2 separate regions of the Homo sapiens genome follow, and region 2 is linked to region 1. Evidence: fine-mapped expression QTL. Tissue or cell type: subcutaneous fat. Region 1 holds a variant in brackets; the other region holds the start of a gene. All regions are shown on one strand. Distances are from middle to middle.

Evidence for each region. PIP is the estimated chance that this variant, and not a neighbour inherited with it, causes the effect.
Region 2: AKR1E2 starts here. The variant in region 1 is fine-mapped to the expression of AKR1E2 in subcutaneous fat (FUSION, PIP 0.95).

The regions. Positions count from the first base shown.
Region 1 is chr10:5,083,326-5,091,432 of GRCh38, forward strand. It overlaps a transcript of AKR1C3 not described here. Among named protein-coding and RNA genes, the nearest start is that of AKR1C3, 7.0 kb to the right of the region's middle. RefSeq lists a silencer at 6,572-6,866. The variant C/T (reference allele first, on the strand shown) is at 4,194.
Region 2 is chr10:4,822,145-4,830,251 of GRCh38, forward strand. It overlaps AKR1E2 (aldo-keto reductase family 1 member E2), which reads left to right and starts at 4,063. Exons shown (of 10, transcript NM_001040177.3): 1 at 4,063-4,219. The coding sequence starts at 4,181. RefSeq lists a silencer at 4,490-4,569.

The sequences.
Region 1 (8,107 bases):
TGTTTGGTTTTTTGTCCTTGTGATAGTTGGCTGAGAATGATGGTTTCCAGTTTCATCCATGTCCCTAAAAAGGGCATGAACTCATCATTTTTTATGGCTGCATAGTATTCCATGGTGTATAGGTGCCACATTTTCTTAATCCAGTCTATCGTTGTTGGACATTTGGGTTGGTTCCAAGTCTTTGCTATTGTGAATAGTGCCGCTATAAACATACGTGTGCATGTGTCTTTATAGCAGCATGATTTATAATCCTTTGGGTATATACCCAGTAATGGGATGGCTGGGTCAAATGGTATTTCTAGTTCTAGATCCCTGAGCAATCGCCACACTGACTTCCACAATGGTTGAACTAGTTTACAGTCCCACCAACAGTGTAAAAGTGTTCCTATTTCTCCACATCCTCTCCAGCACCTGTTGTTTCCTGACTGTTTAATGATCACCATTCAAACTGGTGTGAGATGGTATCTCATTGTGGTTTTGATTTGTATTTCTCTGATGGCCAGTGATGATGAGCATTTTTTCATGTATTTTTTGGGTGCATAAATGTCTTCTTTTGAGAAGTGTCTGTTCATATACTTTGCCCACTTTTTGATGGGGTTGTTTGTTTTTTCCCTGTAAATTTGTTTGAGTTCATTGTAGATTCTGGATATTAGCCCTTTGTCAGATAAGTAGGCTGCAAAAATTTTCTCCCATTCTGTAGGTTGCCTGTTCACTCTGATGGTAATTTCTTTTGCTATCAGAAGCTCTTTAGTTTAATTAGGTCCCATTTGTCAATTTTGGCTTCTGTTGCCATTGCTTTTGGTGTTTTAGACATGAAGTCCTTGCCCAAGCCTATGTCCTGAATGGTATTGCCTAGGTTTTCTTCTAGGGTTTTTATGGCTTTAGGTCTACATGTAAGTCTTTAATCCATCTTGAATTGATTTTTGTATAAGGTGTAAGGAATGGATCCAGTTTCAGCTTTCTACATGTGGCTAGCCAGTTTTCCCAGCACCATTTATTAAATAGGGAATCCTTTCCCCATTGCTTGTTTTTCTCAGGTTTGTCAAAGATCAGATAGTTGTAGATATGCGGCATTATTTCTGAGGGCTCTGTTCTGTTCCATTGGTCTATATCTCTGTTTTGGTACCAGTACCATACTGTTTTGGTTACTGTAGCCTTGTAGTATAGTTTGAAGTCAGGTAGCATGATGCCTCCGGCTTTGTTCTTTTGGCTTAGGATTGACTTGGTGAGGCGGGCTCTTTTTGGGTTCCATATGAACTTTAAAGTAGTTTTTTCCAATTCTGTGAAGAAAGTAATTGGTAGCTTGATGGGGATGGCATTGAATCTATAAATTACCTTGGGCAGTATGGCCATTTTCATGATATTGATTCTTCCTACCCATGAGCATGGAATATTCTTCCATTTCTTTGTATCCTCTTTTATTTCATTGAGTAGTGGTTTGTAGTTCTCCTTGAAGAGGTCCTTCACATCCCTTGTAAGTTGGATTCCTAGGTATTTTATTCTCTTTGAAGCAATTATGAATAGGAGTTCATTCATGATTTGGCTCTCTGTTTGTCTTTTATTGGTGTATAAGAATGCTTGTGATTTTTGCACATTGATTTTGTATCCTGAGACTTTGCTGAAGTTGCTTATCAGCTTGAGGAGATTTTGGGCTGAGACAATGGGGTTTTCTAGATACACAATCATGTCATCTGCAAACAGGGACAATTTGACTTCTTCTTTTCCTAATTGAATACCCTTTATTTCCTTCTCCTGCCTGATTGCCCTGGCCAGAACTTCCAACACTGTTGAATAGGAGTGGTGAGAGAAGGCATCCCTGTCTTGTGCCAGTTTTCAAAGGGAATGCTTCCAGTTTTTGCCCATTCAGTATGATATTAGCTGTGGGTTTGTCATAGATAGCTCTTATTATTTTGAGATATGTGCCATCAATACCTAATTTATTGAGAGTTTTTAGCATGAAGCGTTGTTGAATTTTGTCAAAGGCCTTTTCTGCATCTATTGAGATAATCATGTGGTTTTTGTCTTTGGTTCTGTTTATATGCTGGATTACATTTATTGATTTGCATATGTTGAACCAACCTTGCATCCCAGGGATGAAGCCCACTTGATTATGGTGGATAAGCTTTTTGATGTGCTGCTGGATTCGGTTTGCCAGTATTTTATTGAGGATTTTTGCATCGATTTCATCAGGGACATTGGTCTAAAATTCTCTTTTTTTGTTGTGTCTCTGCCAGGCTTTGGTATCAGGATGACGCTGGCCTCATTAAATGAGTTAGGGAGGATTCCCTCTTTTTCTATTGATTGGAATAGTTTCAGAAGGAACGGTACCAGCTCTTCTTTGTACCTGTGGTAGAATTCAGCTGTGAATCCATCTGGTCCTGGACTTTTTTTGGTTGGTAAGCTATTGATTATTGCCTCAACTTCAGAGCCTGTTATTGGTCTATTCAGAGATTCAACTTCTTCCTGGTTTAGTCTTGGGAGGATGTATGTGTCAAGGAGTTTATCCATTTCTTCTAGATTTTCTAGTTTATTTGCATAGAGGTGTTTACAGTATTCTCTGATGGTAGTTTGTATTTCTGAGGGATCGGTGGTGATATCCCCTTTATCATTTTTTATTGCGTCTATTTGATTCTTCTCTCTTTTCTTTTTTATTAGTCTTGCTAGCAGTCTATCAATTTTGTTGATCTTTTCAAAAAACCAGCTCCTGGTTTCATTAATTTTTTGAAGGGTTTTTTGTGTCTCTATTTCCTTCAGTTCTGCTCTGATCTTAGTTATTTCTTGCCTTCTGCTAGCTTTTGAATATGTTTGCTCTTGCTTTTCTAGCTCTTTTAATTGTGATGTTAGGGTGTCAGTTTTACATCTTTCCTGCTTTGTCTTGTGGGCATTTAGTGCTATAAATTTCCCTCTACACATTGCTTTGAATGTGTCCCAGAGATTCTGGTATGTTGTGTCTTTGTTCTCATTGGTTTCAAAGAACATCTTTATTTCTGCCTTCATTTTGTTATGTACCCAGTAGTCATTCAGGAGCAGGTTGTTCAGTTTCCATGTAGTTGAGCAGTTTTGAGTGAGTTTCTTAATCCTGAGTTCTAGTTTGATTGCACTGTGATCTGAGAGACAGTTTGTTATAATTTCTGTTCTTTTACATTTGCTGAGGAGAGCTTTACTTCTAACTATGTGGTCAATTTTGGAGTAGGTGTGGTGTGGTGCTGAAAAGAATGTATGTTCTATTGATTTGGGGTGGAGAGCTCTGTAGGTGTCTATTAGGTCCGCTTGGTGCAGAGCTGAGTTCAATTCCTGGGTATCCTTGTTAACTTTCTGTCTCGTTGATCTGTCTAATGTTGACAGTGGGGTGTTAAAGTCTCCCACTATTATTGTGTGGGAATCTAAGTCTCTTTGTAGGTCACTAAGGACTTGCTTTATGAATCTGGGTGCTCCTGTATTGGATGCATATATATTTAGGATAGTTAGCTCTTCTTGTTGAATTGATCCTTTTACCATTATGTAGTGGCCTTCTTTGTCTCTTTTGATCTTTGTTGGTTTAAAGTCTGTTTTATCTGAGACTAGGATTGCAACCCCTGCCTTTTTTTGTTTTCCATTTGCTTGATAGATCTTCCTCCATCCCTTTATTTTGAGCCTATGTGTGTCTCTGCATGTGAGATGGGTTTCCAGCACACTGATGGGTCTTGACTCTTTATCCAATTTGCCAGTCTGTCTTTTAATTGGAGCATTTAGACCATTTACATTTAAAGTTAGTATTGTTATGTGTGAATTTGATCCTGTCATTATGATGTTAGCTGGTTATTTTGCTCGATAGTTGATGCAGTTTCTTCCTAGCCTCGCTGGTCTTTACAATTTGGCATGTTTTTGCAGTGGCTGGTACCGTTTGTTCCTTTCCATGTTTAGTGCTTCCTTCAGGAGCTCCTTTAGGGCAGGCCTGGTGGTGACAAAGTCTCTATATTTTCTAGTTTGTGCACATAGAAATGTTTACAGGAGTCACTGATACTCTCTTGTATTTCTCTGATATCAGTTTTAATGTCACCTTTATCATTTCTTTCTTTTTTTTTTTTTTTTGAGGCTCGCTCTGTTGCCCAGGCTGGAGGGCAGTGGGGCAATCTCAGCTCACTGAAACCTTGACCTCCCAGGTTCAAGCGATTCTTCTGCCTCAGCCTTCCAAGTAGCTGAGATTACAGGCA[C/T]ACACCACCATGCCTGGCTACTGTTTTTTGTATTTTTAGTAGAGGCGGGGTTTCACCATGTTGGCCAGGCTAGTCTCGAACTCTTGACCTCAAGTGACCCTGCCTCAGCCTCCCTAAGTGCTGGGATTACAGACGTAAGCCACTTTGTCCAGCCTCACCTTTATCTTTTCTGTATTGTATTTTTTTGAATATTCTTTTTTTTTCTTTGTTAGCTAGCTGACTATCAATTTTGTTTATCCTTTCAAAGAACCAAATTTTTGTCTCATTGATCCTTTATACCTATTTTTTTTCTTGTCTCAATTTCATTTAGTTATGGTGTGACCATTCTTATTTCTTTTCTTCTGCTAACTTTGGGCTTGGTTTGCTCTTATTTTTCTAGTTCCTTAGAAGTGACTTTAGGTGGTGAGTTTGAGGTCTTTCTATCTTTTCAGGGAGGGTTTAACACTATAAATTTATCTCTTAGCACTGCTTTCCCATATCCGAGAGATTTTGGCATGTTGTATGTCTATTTTCATTCATTTCAAAAAATCTGTTGAATTCTGAATTTCATTCTTTACCCAAAAGTTGTTCAGGGACACATTGTTTAATTTTTCATGCACTTGTATAGCTTTGAGAGTTCCTCTTGATATTGATTTCTAGTTTTATTCAACTGCAGTCTGAAAAAATACTTGATATGATTTTGAGTTTTTAATTTTATTGAGACTTGCTTTATAACCAAGGATGTGGTCAATTTTTGAGAATGGTTCATGTGCAGGTGAGAAAAATGTGTATTCTGTAGTTGTTAGGTAGAATGTTCTGTAAATGATTATGATGTCCATTTGGTTCATATTCCAGCTTAAGTCCAGAGAGTTTTTTTTTTGGCTGATTTTCTGTCTCAATGATCTGCAACATTTATAAGTGGGGTGTTGATGTCATTTACTATTATTGTACTTCTCCCAGTCTGTTTTCTTAGGTGTAGTAGTATTTCTTTTATGAATCTGGGTGCTCCAATATTGAATACATTTATATTTAGGATGGTTAAATCTTCTTGCTGTATGGAATCTTTATAATATAATGCTCTTCTCTGTCTTTTTAAAATATCATTGGTATAAAAGTCTGTTTTATCTAGTATAAGAATGGCTAGTCCTGCTTGCTGACATTGATATATCATGTAAATGAAAACAAATCTGTAGGTGTCATTAGACCTAATGGTAGATCTCCTGTAGATAAAAGCTGTTGGGTCTTGTCCTTTTATCAAATTTTCTGTTCTATTTCTTTTAAGTGGAGGATTTAGGTAATTTATGCTCAAGGTTAACCTAGATATATGAGCTTTTGTTTCTGTCATGGTCTTGTTAGCCAATTGCTTTAGAGACTCAATTGTGCAATTACTGTATAGTAATTATGACCTGTGTACTTCATGTCCTTTTATGATGGTATCATAATATTTTTATATTTAAGATTCCTCTGAGCATTTCCTGAAGGGCTAGTCTAGTGGTGACAAATTCCCTTAAAATTTGCTTGTCTGTGAAAGATGATTTCTCCATTTTTTTCTATAAAAAGGCTAAAAATAGGCCCCCAATATCTTCCGACTTTTAGGTTTTCTGCTGTTAAATCTGTTTAGTATAATAGGATTTTCTTTAGAGGTGATTTGTAGCTTCTCTGTAGCTGCTTTTAAAATTTGTTCATTCTTATTGACCTTGGGTGGTCTGGTGACTGTATGCCTTGTCGATGTACATTTAGCATAGTATCTTTCAGGTATTCTCTGAATTTTTTGAATCTCATTTCTAAATGTCTATCAGGATAAAGAAAATATTTCTGCATTATTTCTTCTACTATGTTTTTCAAACTTCTTACTTCTCTTCATCTTCCTTAGAAATGCTTATTAGTTGTAGATTTGATGGCTTTATATAATCCCATATTTCTCAAAGCCTTTGTTCATTTATAACAATTATTTTCTTTTTTAAATTTCTGACTGGATTAATTTGAAAGACTAGTCTTCAAGATATGAAATGCTTTCTTCTGCTGGTTTAGTCTACTCTCAAAGATTTAAACTGTATTTTAAAATTCCTTCAGTGAATTTTTTTGTTTTCAAATTTTTGGTTTTTTCCCAAAATAAGTATATCTTTTTTTCTTTCCTTGATTGCTTTTGTAGTTTCTTTGTGTTTGTTTTTGACCTTCTCTGGATCTTATTGAGCTTTCTTATAATCCATACTTTGAATTCTATACCTGACGTTTCTCAATTTTATTTTGATTAGAGTCCATTGCTGGAGACTTAGTGTAATTTTTTGACAGTACCACAACATTCAGATTTTTTATGGTGCAAGAATTCTTGTACTGGATTTTTTTCTCATTTGGAGAAGCCGAGAGTTCTTGGTTTGAATTTACATTCATTCCGATGGAATTCTTTTCTCTATTTTTGCTTTATACCTCTGCCCTTGAGGGTGTGATTGTAGAGTGTCATGAGTAGTGTATTTTGGCTTTGCTTCAATAGCCCTATGGCACTTGTGTTGGTAGGTTTTTACATTGAGTTGCGCAGTTCAATTCACAGGCCAGTAGAGGGTACTTATGAGTAAGAGCCAGCTGTGCCAAAGCAGATGGGTATATACTCGATCTTTGTTTACTGTGTGAGGCTTTCTGTTGTTTCAAGTGATGGGATGGACCGTGGAATGATCAGTGCCCTGAGCTTCCTATTCAGTGTGTGACAGAGATATATCTGGGTAGAGCTGGAGTAGCTTAATTACCTGCAAATACCCCAGTGATGAGCACAGGCACCAGCCCAAAGAGAGGTTACCAGAGAAACTTCTGTTGTAAAGCATGAAGTTCTCTGTGGGGGTTAGGAAACTGCACTGATCCACAACCTGGGTAGTCAGTAACACAATCTGTTTCCCTAATACATCCCTGTCTTGGGCCTTGTGACTCTCAGTTCAGATGCACACTGCTGTCTATCTCCAGGCCACAGTGTAGCTGAGAGCCATAAAATAAAAAACTACTGTCCCATAGCTCTCTAAGGAAGTGATAATTGGGGTAGAACCTCTTCACCCAGTTCAATATAGACAGCTTTGTGGCTCTCATGTAGTGTGAGGTGGTAATGCTGCTTCTTCATGGAGATAGAAGGAGAGGCTCCACCTTTCAGCACTTCTGTGTTGGTATCAGCTATATTGGTGTCATCTGGTTGGGTCAGCCCAGTCTCAGGACCCCAGGGAAGTGATCACATGCCAGCATTGTTATACTGTGTTGGGCAATTTTCCAATTTCAAATTTCACATTTCCCAGGCCCCTACATGGTAATGGAATGGCATGTATGAGGAAAGAAGACTGATGAGTGGTGATGAAATTACAAGACAAAGTGAGACTGTTCTGTCCTAGAAGTCAGATGAAGAAATTGTTTTAAGAAAAGAGTCAAATGCTATTAATAGGACAAGTAAGATGGAGTCTCAACATTGACCATTGGCATTGACTATTGACCTTTACAAAGTCAAGAATGTTTTGATAGCATGATGGAGGCAAGAGTCAGAATAGTGTGCATTCAATAAAGTGTAGGATGAGAGTAATTAGATACAGAGTGTAGAACATGTTCAAATAATGGCCTGTAAAGGGGACCAGACGATTGAGCAACCACCGAAGAAGAAAACGGAGTAAAATGAGGGTTATTTTTGTGATGACAGTAAAAACAGCATGCCTGTGTGCTCTTAGGGAGAACTTAGCAGAGAGAAAAAAAACTGATGATGCAGGAAAGAGAGAATGAGAATTGCTGAAATTACGTCCAAATTAGTTTTCTGTTCCTGCTGTAACAAATTACCACAAACGTTATGGCTTGAAACACCACAAATTAATTTTCTCGAAGTTCTGGAGACTAGAATTCCAAAGTCTGGTTCAATGGGCTAATGTCAATGTGGCCACAGGCCTAAACATGTATTTTTCAGAACATATCTCTAA
Region 2 (8,107 bases), 260 kb before region 1:
TCATCAGTACTTCTTATCTTGAAGGCTGATTTCAATAATCATTTATCCCTCACAACTTCATACAATTTCTTCCTTTTAGAGTCCCACTGAATATCATTTATATTTATCCCACGCTATTTTTTTATTCTAGTTTATATTATTACTTGTGAACTTTCCTAATCTCGTCTCCCAAACACACAAACCCTTTAGCTACTTCCATGGGAGGCTATCTTATCTATTACTCTCCACACCCCCAGCCACGGGATATGCAGGAGACACTAATGGATCTAGTATATCACACAGGAAGCAGATCACCAGGACGACAATTACAATCAGCAAATCCCAGTATCCACTAAAGACAGTGACAAGGGTAAAAAGACAATAGCTGAGAGCGAGGTAATAAGTGTTCATGAAGAATTTCTTAAGCCTCAGCATCTTAGCAGCTATAGCAGAATGCCATAACAAAGACAAAAGTATTTTGAGTGTGAAGTTATACCATGACATACAAATGCATCTGTCAATGAGGCCGTTAGAAATCTTCCAGACCAAAGGTCCCAAACACCCACCATAACCTTCTGATTCAATAGGGCACATATGGGGAAACTGTACTGTTAAAAAGCACTTCTACCAAGAAAAGGCAAAAAATGTCCCCTCACCACTCCTTCTCAACACTGTACTGGACATCCTAACTAATATAATAAGACAAAAAAGGAACTAAAAGGTATACAGGCTGGGTGCAGTGGCTCACGCCTGTAATCCCAGCACTTTGGGAGGCCAAGGAGGGTGGATCATGAGGTCAGGAGTTTGAGACCACCCTGACCAACAAGATGAAACCCCATCTCTACTAAAAACATAAAAATTAGCCAGGCATAGTGATGCATGCCTGTAATCCCAGCTACTCATGAGGCTGAGGCAGGAGAATCGCTAGAACCCAGGAGGCAGAGGTTGCTGTGAGCCGAGATCCCGCCACTGCACTCCAGCCTGGGTGACAGAGTGAGACTCTGTCTAAAAAAAAAAAAAAAAAAAAAAAAAAAGATATACAGTTTGGGAAGAAAAAAATTAAACTGTCTTTGTTCACAGGTGACATTATTTGCTATCTTAATTTAATTTCCAAAGAATTGATGAAAAGCTTCTGAAACTACTAAGCAATTATAGCAAGGTTGCAGAAGACAAGATTAATATACAAAAATCAACTATTTTCCTATATACCAGAATTCAACAAGTGGTATTTGAAATTAAAAGCACAGTACCATTTACATTAGCACCCCCGAAAATGAAATACTTATGTATAAATCTAACAAAATACATATGAGTCCTATATAGGAAAACTACAAAACTCTGATGAAAGATGTAAAAATAAATAAATAAATCGAGTGATATTCCATGTTCATGAATACAAGGACTCAATATTGTCAAGACATCAGCTCTCCCCAAACTGATCTAAACATTCAGTGTAATCTCATCAAAATCTTACTAAATTATTTTGTGGATAAACTGAATCCATAGTTCATATGAAGAAGCAAAAGACACAGAATAGATAACTCAATATTGAAGGAAAAGAACAAAGTTAGAGGACTCACACTACCTGACCTCAAGACTTACAATAAATCTACTGCAGTAATCAAGACAGTGTGGTATTTATGAAACAGGCAAATGGATCAATGGAACAAAATAGCACAGAAATAGATCACCACAAATATAATAAGCTGATGTTTGACAAAGGAGCAAAGGCAATACACTGGAGAACTTTCAGTCTTTTCAACAAATGATGTTGGACATCCACATGCAAAAAAATAAATCCAGACACAGATCTCACACTCTTCATTAAAATTAACTCAAAGTGGATCGAAGGCCTAAATGTAAAACACAACACTATGAAACTTCTAGAAAATAAGAGAAAATCTAGATGATCTTGGGTTTAGTGATTTTTTTTATTTTTATTTTTTATATTGATTACTGTGTTCCAGGATATTCTAATTTACTAATTTTTATTTTAATTTTTTTCTGTCTAGTCTCTGATTTTTTAATTTTAATTTTTATTTCAATTGTTTTGGGGCGACAAGTAGTGTTTGGTTGCATGGAAAAGTTATTTAGTGGTGATTTCTGATATTCTGGTGCACCCATCACCAGAGTAGTGTACATTGTGCCCAATGTGTAGTCTTTTATCTCTCACTCCCCTCCCAGCCTTCCCCCTGAGTCCCCGAAGTCCATTATATAATTCTTATGTCTTTGCAATGACTTTTAAAATACAACATCAAAGGGATGAGCCATGAAAGAAATAATTGATAAGCTCACTTCGTTAAAATAAAAATTTTTTTATTTTGCTAAAGACAATGTCAAGGAAATGAAAAGACAAGTTACAGACAGACTGGGAGAAAATATTTACAAAGACACATCTAATAAAGGACTCTTATCCAAAATACACAAAGAACTCTTAAAATCCAACAATAAGAAAATGAATGACCCAAATAAAAAATGGGCAAAAGACCTGAAAACACACCTTATCAAAGATATACAGATAGCAAAGAAGCAGAGTAAAAGATGCTCAACGTCATAGACTTATGGAATTTCTGTTAAAACAATGAAATAGCATGATACACGATTGCAGTGCAGTAGAGCTTCCCCCAGGAATACTGTTCCCAGACTTGTGCAGGGCTGGTTCCCTCACTCTTTGCCTTTCTGTTTGCAGCATAAATGCCACTTCATTGAGGTGTTGAGGATTCCCTCACTCTGTCCCTTCCGCCTCTCACCACAAGCACCTGCTTTATTTTACTATAGCACCTGCTCTTTTTTTTTCTCATGCATTTGCTTTTATGCTCTGTCCATTCATTCCTACAGATGGTGAGCTCCTGAGGGCAAGGCCCATGCAGGTCATTTTCAGCACTGCACCCTGGCCTAACTTGCCCCGTGCACAGGTGAGTGCTCCAGGCACAGTTTCTGAATGAATAAATGAGAGTATCGAAGATCCCCCTTCCCACCTGTGAGGAGCTCACATTGAGGAGATGGATGCTCACAGGAGATGCAAGTTGGGTGGGAGGCAGGGGGACACCCAGAGTGACCCTGGGAGTTTCTCTGGCTGCAGCCGCCCCATTGAGCAGAATGGGCAGCGCCTCCCCTGATGGCCAGCACTGAAGACCCAGGCAAGGAACCTAGAAACAAAGCCCTCATCTGGGTGTGGGTGTCCTCAAGGCAGTAGGACTCCCAGGGCTGAGGGGGGCAATGAAGGGGGAGCTGTAAGCTCCAGGAGAGATAAGAGGGGCGTCGGAAGGCTCCCTTGACCCCTCTTTCCCTCCACTGGCCCTGGGGGAGCCCAGTCCACTCATAAGGGGGGTGTCCAGTCCACCCCATCCACTTCCAAACGGGGGCCCGAGGCTGCAAGCAAGGACGCTCCCCTCTACATGCAGGGCTCGGCCTCCCCTGCACCACCCAGGACCCCCGCTGTCCTGCAAGCCCCAGCCGCTCTGGGCCAGGACCCAGGGAGTGGAAGGCATTTTCCAAGGGCACAGTGGCTCCCTGACGGGGAACCAAGGCCAGGCACGCTTCTCCCAGACTGGGGGCCTCGGGGCACCTGAGAATGGCCATCCTTGGTACAAGAGAGCGGGGACCCACTCCCGCGCACCCTGTGCCCCAGGGGACGCAGGACTCTGCACCCTGACCCTAGAGCTTGCCCTAGGATGGCCCGGCCATGGCGAGGCCCTGGAACGGTGAAGACTCTCTGCCCATCAACCTAGCACCTCTGCCCTACCCTCAGTCGCATATGCACCCGGTGCGAGGGAGAAGGCAACCAGGAGGTCACACCTAAGGTGGGGGCGTGAGCGGCAATGCCAGCCGATTGTAAAACCTTCCCTGCTCCTGCGTGGCTCTGCAAGCCAATCGAAAATTCCGTCGTCTATGCCGCCAGCCAATCAGGATGTCCAGAGCGCGGTGCTTCCAGCCATTTGGGACTCCAGCTGGCTCTGCGCCTCCAGCCAATCGGGGTGCCCGTCCTTAATACAACCAGCCAGTCAGTGCCCGGCGCGCGACACCAGCAGCCAGTCAGGAAGCCCTGCGTTCATGCTTCCAGCCATTGTCGGAGTGTCAGCCGTCACAAGGCACTTCCAGCCAGTCGCAACGGCGGGTCGCCAGCGCCGCAGTAGCTCGCGCGGTGCCTGTCGGTAGTCGCGTGCGGGGCGGCGGGGCGGCGGGGCGGCCGGCGGCGGCCATGGGAGATATCCCAGCCGTGGGCCTCAGCTCCTGGAAGGTGACGCGGTCGCGGGCAGGGAGGCGCGCCTGACCTAGGGGAGCGCGGGACTTGGGGGCGCCCGATGGGACCCAGGCCGGGGCTGGGGAGAAGTGCGGCGGCCTCCCCTCCGCCTGGCCGACGCCCGGGAAAGGCGCTGCTGAGGTGGCCGCCCACCGCCCACAAGCAGCCCGGCCCGGCCTTTCCTAAAACGGAGTCGGTGCTGCCCGCCGAGGCGCTCTCTGGGAGAAGCGGGAACCTCGGCAGCCAAGCCTCAGACTCTGGGGCTGCGGCCGCGGCGTTGGGCGGGGCTGCTCTGTGGAGAGGCGGAGCCCTTGAAGTTACTCAGAACTGGAGCGGGGATGCCGAGGGGAGGCCTTGGCGGCGCTGGACTCGGCCGGAACAGGGAACCTCGAAGCCTCCTCTCCAGCAAAGAGAGAAAGAAAAGTTGGGGCCGGGCGTGGGGTGCGGGCTTGTAATCCCAGCACTTTGGGAGGCCGAGGCAGTAGGATCGCCTGAGCTCAGGAGTTCAAGACCAGCCAGGTCAACATGGCGAAACCCTGTTTCTACAAAAAATGAACAAATCAGCTGGGCTTGGGGGTGCGCGCCTGTGGTCCCAGCTACTCAGGAGGCTGAGGTGGGAGGATCACTGGAGACCAGGAAGTCGATGCTGCAGTGAGCTTTGATGGCGCCACTGCACTCCAGCCTTGGGGACAGAGCCAGACCTTGCTGGAAAAAAAAAAAAAAAAAAGAAAAAAGGAAAATTGGAATTGCTGATTAGGCTTTAAAAGAAACTTTGGGATCTCATGTTGTTCCCTGTTTAGAAGCAACCTGCCCTGATGCCTGAGACATATAATCGCTCTGTGCATTTATGGGGTGCAGCGTAATGTTTTGAGCCGTGTATACAATTGCAATGTGGTTAAATCAAGCTAATTAACATATCTATCACCTCTCTCAGTTATTATTGTTTGTGGTAAGATGTTTGAAATGTCTTGTTATTTTGAAATACACATGTGTAGTAAATTATTGTTGACTGTTGGCATCCTAGTGCGCAGTAAGTCTTAAAAGCTGTGTCTCCTGTGTGTTTGAAACTTTGTACCCTTTGATCAGCAACTCCCCATTCCCTCCTTCCTCACCTCCCCCAGCCCCCAGCGTCTTATAACCACCATTCTATTCTACGACCTTTCTCTGCTTTGAACTTCACAATTCCTGCCAGTGATTTGAGACAGCACTGACTAAAAAGCGTTTAAAATTTGATCTTTAAAAAAAAAAAGCTAAACTTAGTTGTTGATAAAAGCTATAAGAAGTCATATAGGAAGTTAGTTACTGAAGGAGTCAGAATGTTCAAGGCCTGCTCATGAAAATATTATTTAAATTATTTCTCTTACCTGCTTACCAACTCTTAGAGGCTAGGAGTGTCGTTTTGTTCATATTGGTTCTCAGCATCTAGTGAAGGACGTGCATCTGTCAGCCCTTCATTCAGTAAGCACTCGATGGATTAAACTGTTGAGTCTCTTGCTTCCCTTTATTTCTGCAACAATTTGGTGCAGGAGTCCAGACTTTCGTGCACACAGGATAAGGAAAAATTAGTGAAAACTGTGCTTAACAGGTCAAAATATTCTATTTATTTTTCTTGGACTGCAGGTGCATCAAATTGGATTAATCATAATCACTCATCACTGGTCTATGCAAAGGCTTATTTTTACTCGTCTATTTTTAATAGTGAATAAACATCACAGACCTATCCGTTATCTGTTGCCCCAGAAATGCTGCATCAATGGCCAAACACCAGACCTCAGTGGTGTACAGCAGCAAGTGTATTCCTCCCACACGGGAGGTCAGGAGAGCAGCTCTGTGGACCTTGGCTGGGCTCAGTTGGGATGGTTGGGGCTACTCCACTTGGCTCCGCACATCTCCTGTCCTCGTGCGGTTAGTTAGGGAGTGTTCTCAAGATGATGGCTGAAGCACAAGAGAGCAAGGGGAGCGGTGAGATGTCTGGAGACCTCAGCCTGGGCTCTTCATTATTAGGGGCCACTTGATCCATCTGTGTGCCTGATCGGTGCTGTCTTAATTACTACAGTTCCTTGATAAGCGCCCATACCTAGTAGGGCAGGTCACCTCTCCCTGCTGTTGTAGATTTACAGTGTACAATTTGATGAGTTTTGACAGATGCATGTACCTGGGTCCTGGCTTTTTATTTTGGCACCTTACTCTCCACTGTAAGTTTTAGAACTAGCTTAGAAGGTTCCATGAGAAACTTTATTGGGGTTTTGATTGGAACTACATTAAATCTGTAGACCAGCTTGGAGATAATTGACACCTTTGTAATGTTAAATCTTAACTTTTCTACAAGCATGGTATTCTTCTCTGTTAATAAATTGTCCTGAATATGGTTCATTTCTAACATCTTTTCATATGGTTGTATAGTTTTTCCTGAAGAGAATATATGTCTTTTGTTGGAATTATTATTGGGTTCTTGATAGTGTGTTATACTACTGGAAATTATATTTCTCTGAAGTTACATTTTCTACTTGTTTCACCTGCTATATTCATTACACTTCCAGCCACTTTACTAAACTGTACTGTTATTTCTGTTAATTTGTGTTACATTTGTTTGGATTTTCTACACAAATGATCATATCATCAGCAAATAATGGTAGTTTACTTTCCTTTTTTTCCACTCTTTAAGCTTAAAATTGCTTCTTCTTAGTTGTTCAGGTGCTTCTGGAAAGCACCTCCAGCACAGTGGCCATTCTTGTTTTGTACCTGATTTTAAAGGATGTAAGATGGATATTTTTTAATATTGATACTCTTTATCAGATTAATTCTTTTCCCCGACTTACTGGGAGTTTAGATTTTGAATCTAAACTGGTATTGAATCTTAACAAATATTGATTGAGTTGACTTTTGTTTTTGTACTTTAATCTGTTAATATTGATGAATTACAGATTTTCTAATATCAAACCATCCTTAGATATCTGAGATACACTCAACATGGGTGTGGTATATTATCTTTTCATAAATATTGTTGCATCCAATTTGCTTTTATTTTACTTATGAATTTTGCAACGGTATTCATGAATAAGATGAATGTGTGACTTTTAATATTTTTGTCTGATTTTGATTCAGGGTTATGCTAGTTTTGTAGAATGAGTTGAGATAAGTCCGTCTTTTTCTGTTGTTTGAAAGTCTGTGTTAAACTGAGATGATTTTTTTCTTGAAAATTTTATGAAACTGGTGGTTTTCTCTTTTTTTTGAATTCCTTGCATTCTTTAATAATTATGTAACTATTCAAGCTTTATTCTTGGGTTAAATTTTTCTAGGAATTTTCCCATTTTATCTCATTTTTCCAAGTTATTGACATATAGTTATTGGTAATATTTTCTTTTAAGTCCATTTTATCTGCATGTTTTACTGTCCATTCGTGTCAGTTTTTTAAAAAGTTGGCCTCTTCATCAACCTAGCCAGAAGTCTGTTTATTTTACTGAAGTTTTTCAAAGAACTGACTTCTGGTTTTGTTGATCTTCTCTGTTACATCTTTGTTTTCTATTTTATTGATGTTATTCTTAATCATATTTTTATCTTTCCATCCAATTTCTTGGGTTCTTTTTCTAACTTAAGATGGATACTTGGTTCATTAGCTTTCAACCACTCTGAATCTGTTGCCTATAAAATGAAGATAATTATGCTGCTCTAACTCCTAGGGTTACCGTGAAGCTCCAGTGAGAAAGTGGTTTGTGAACTATAAAGCCCTTGTCAGTCTTCAGTTTAATGAGACTGCAAACCCGCCCACCCCCATAGTCTTCCCTAGTTCTAGTCCCTTCCCTTGCCTGAGCTTCATTTAGAGTGACTGTTCTCTTTTCTGAACTACCTTATTGCTTGTAGCATTATACATTCATTTAGGTTTTG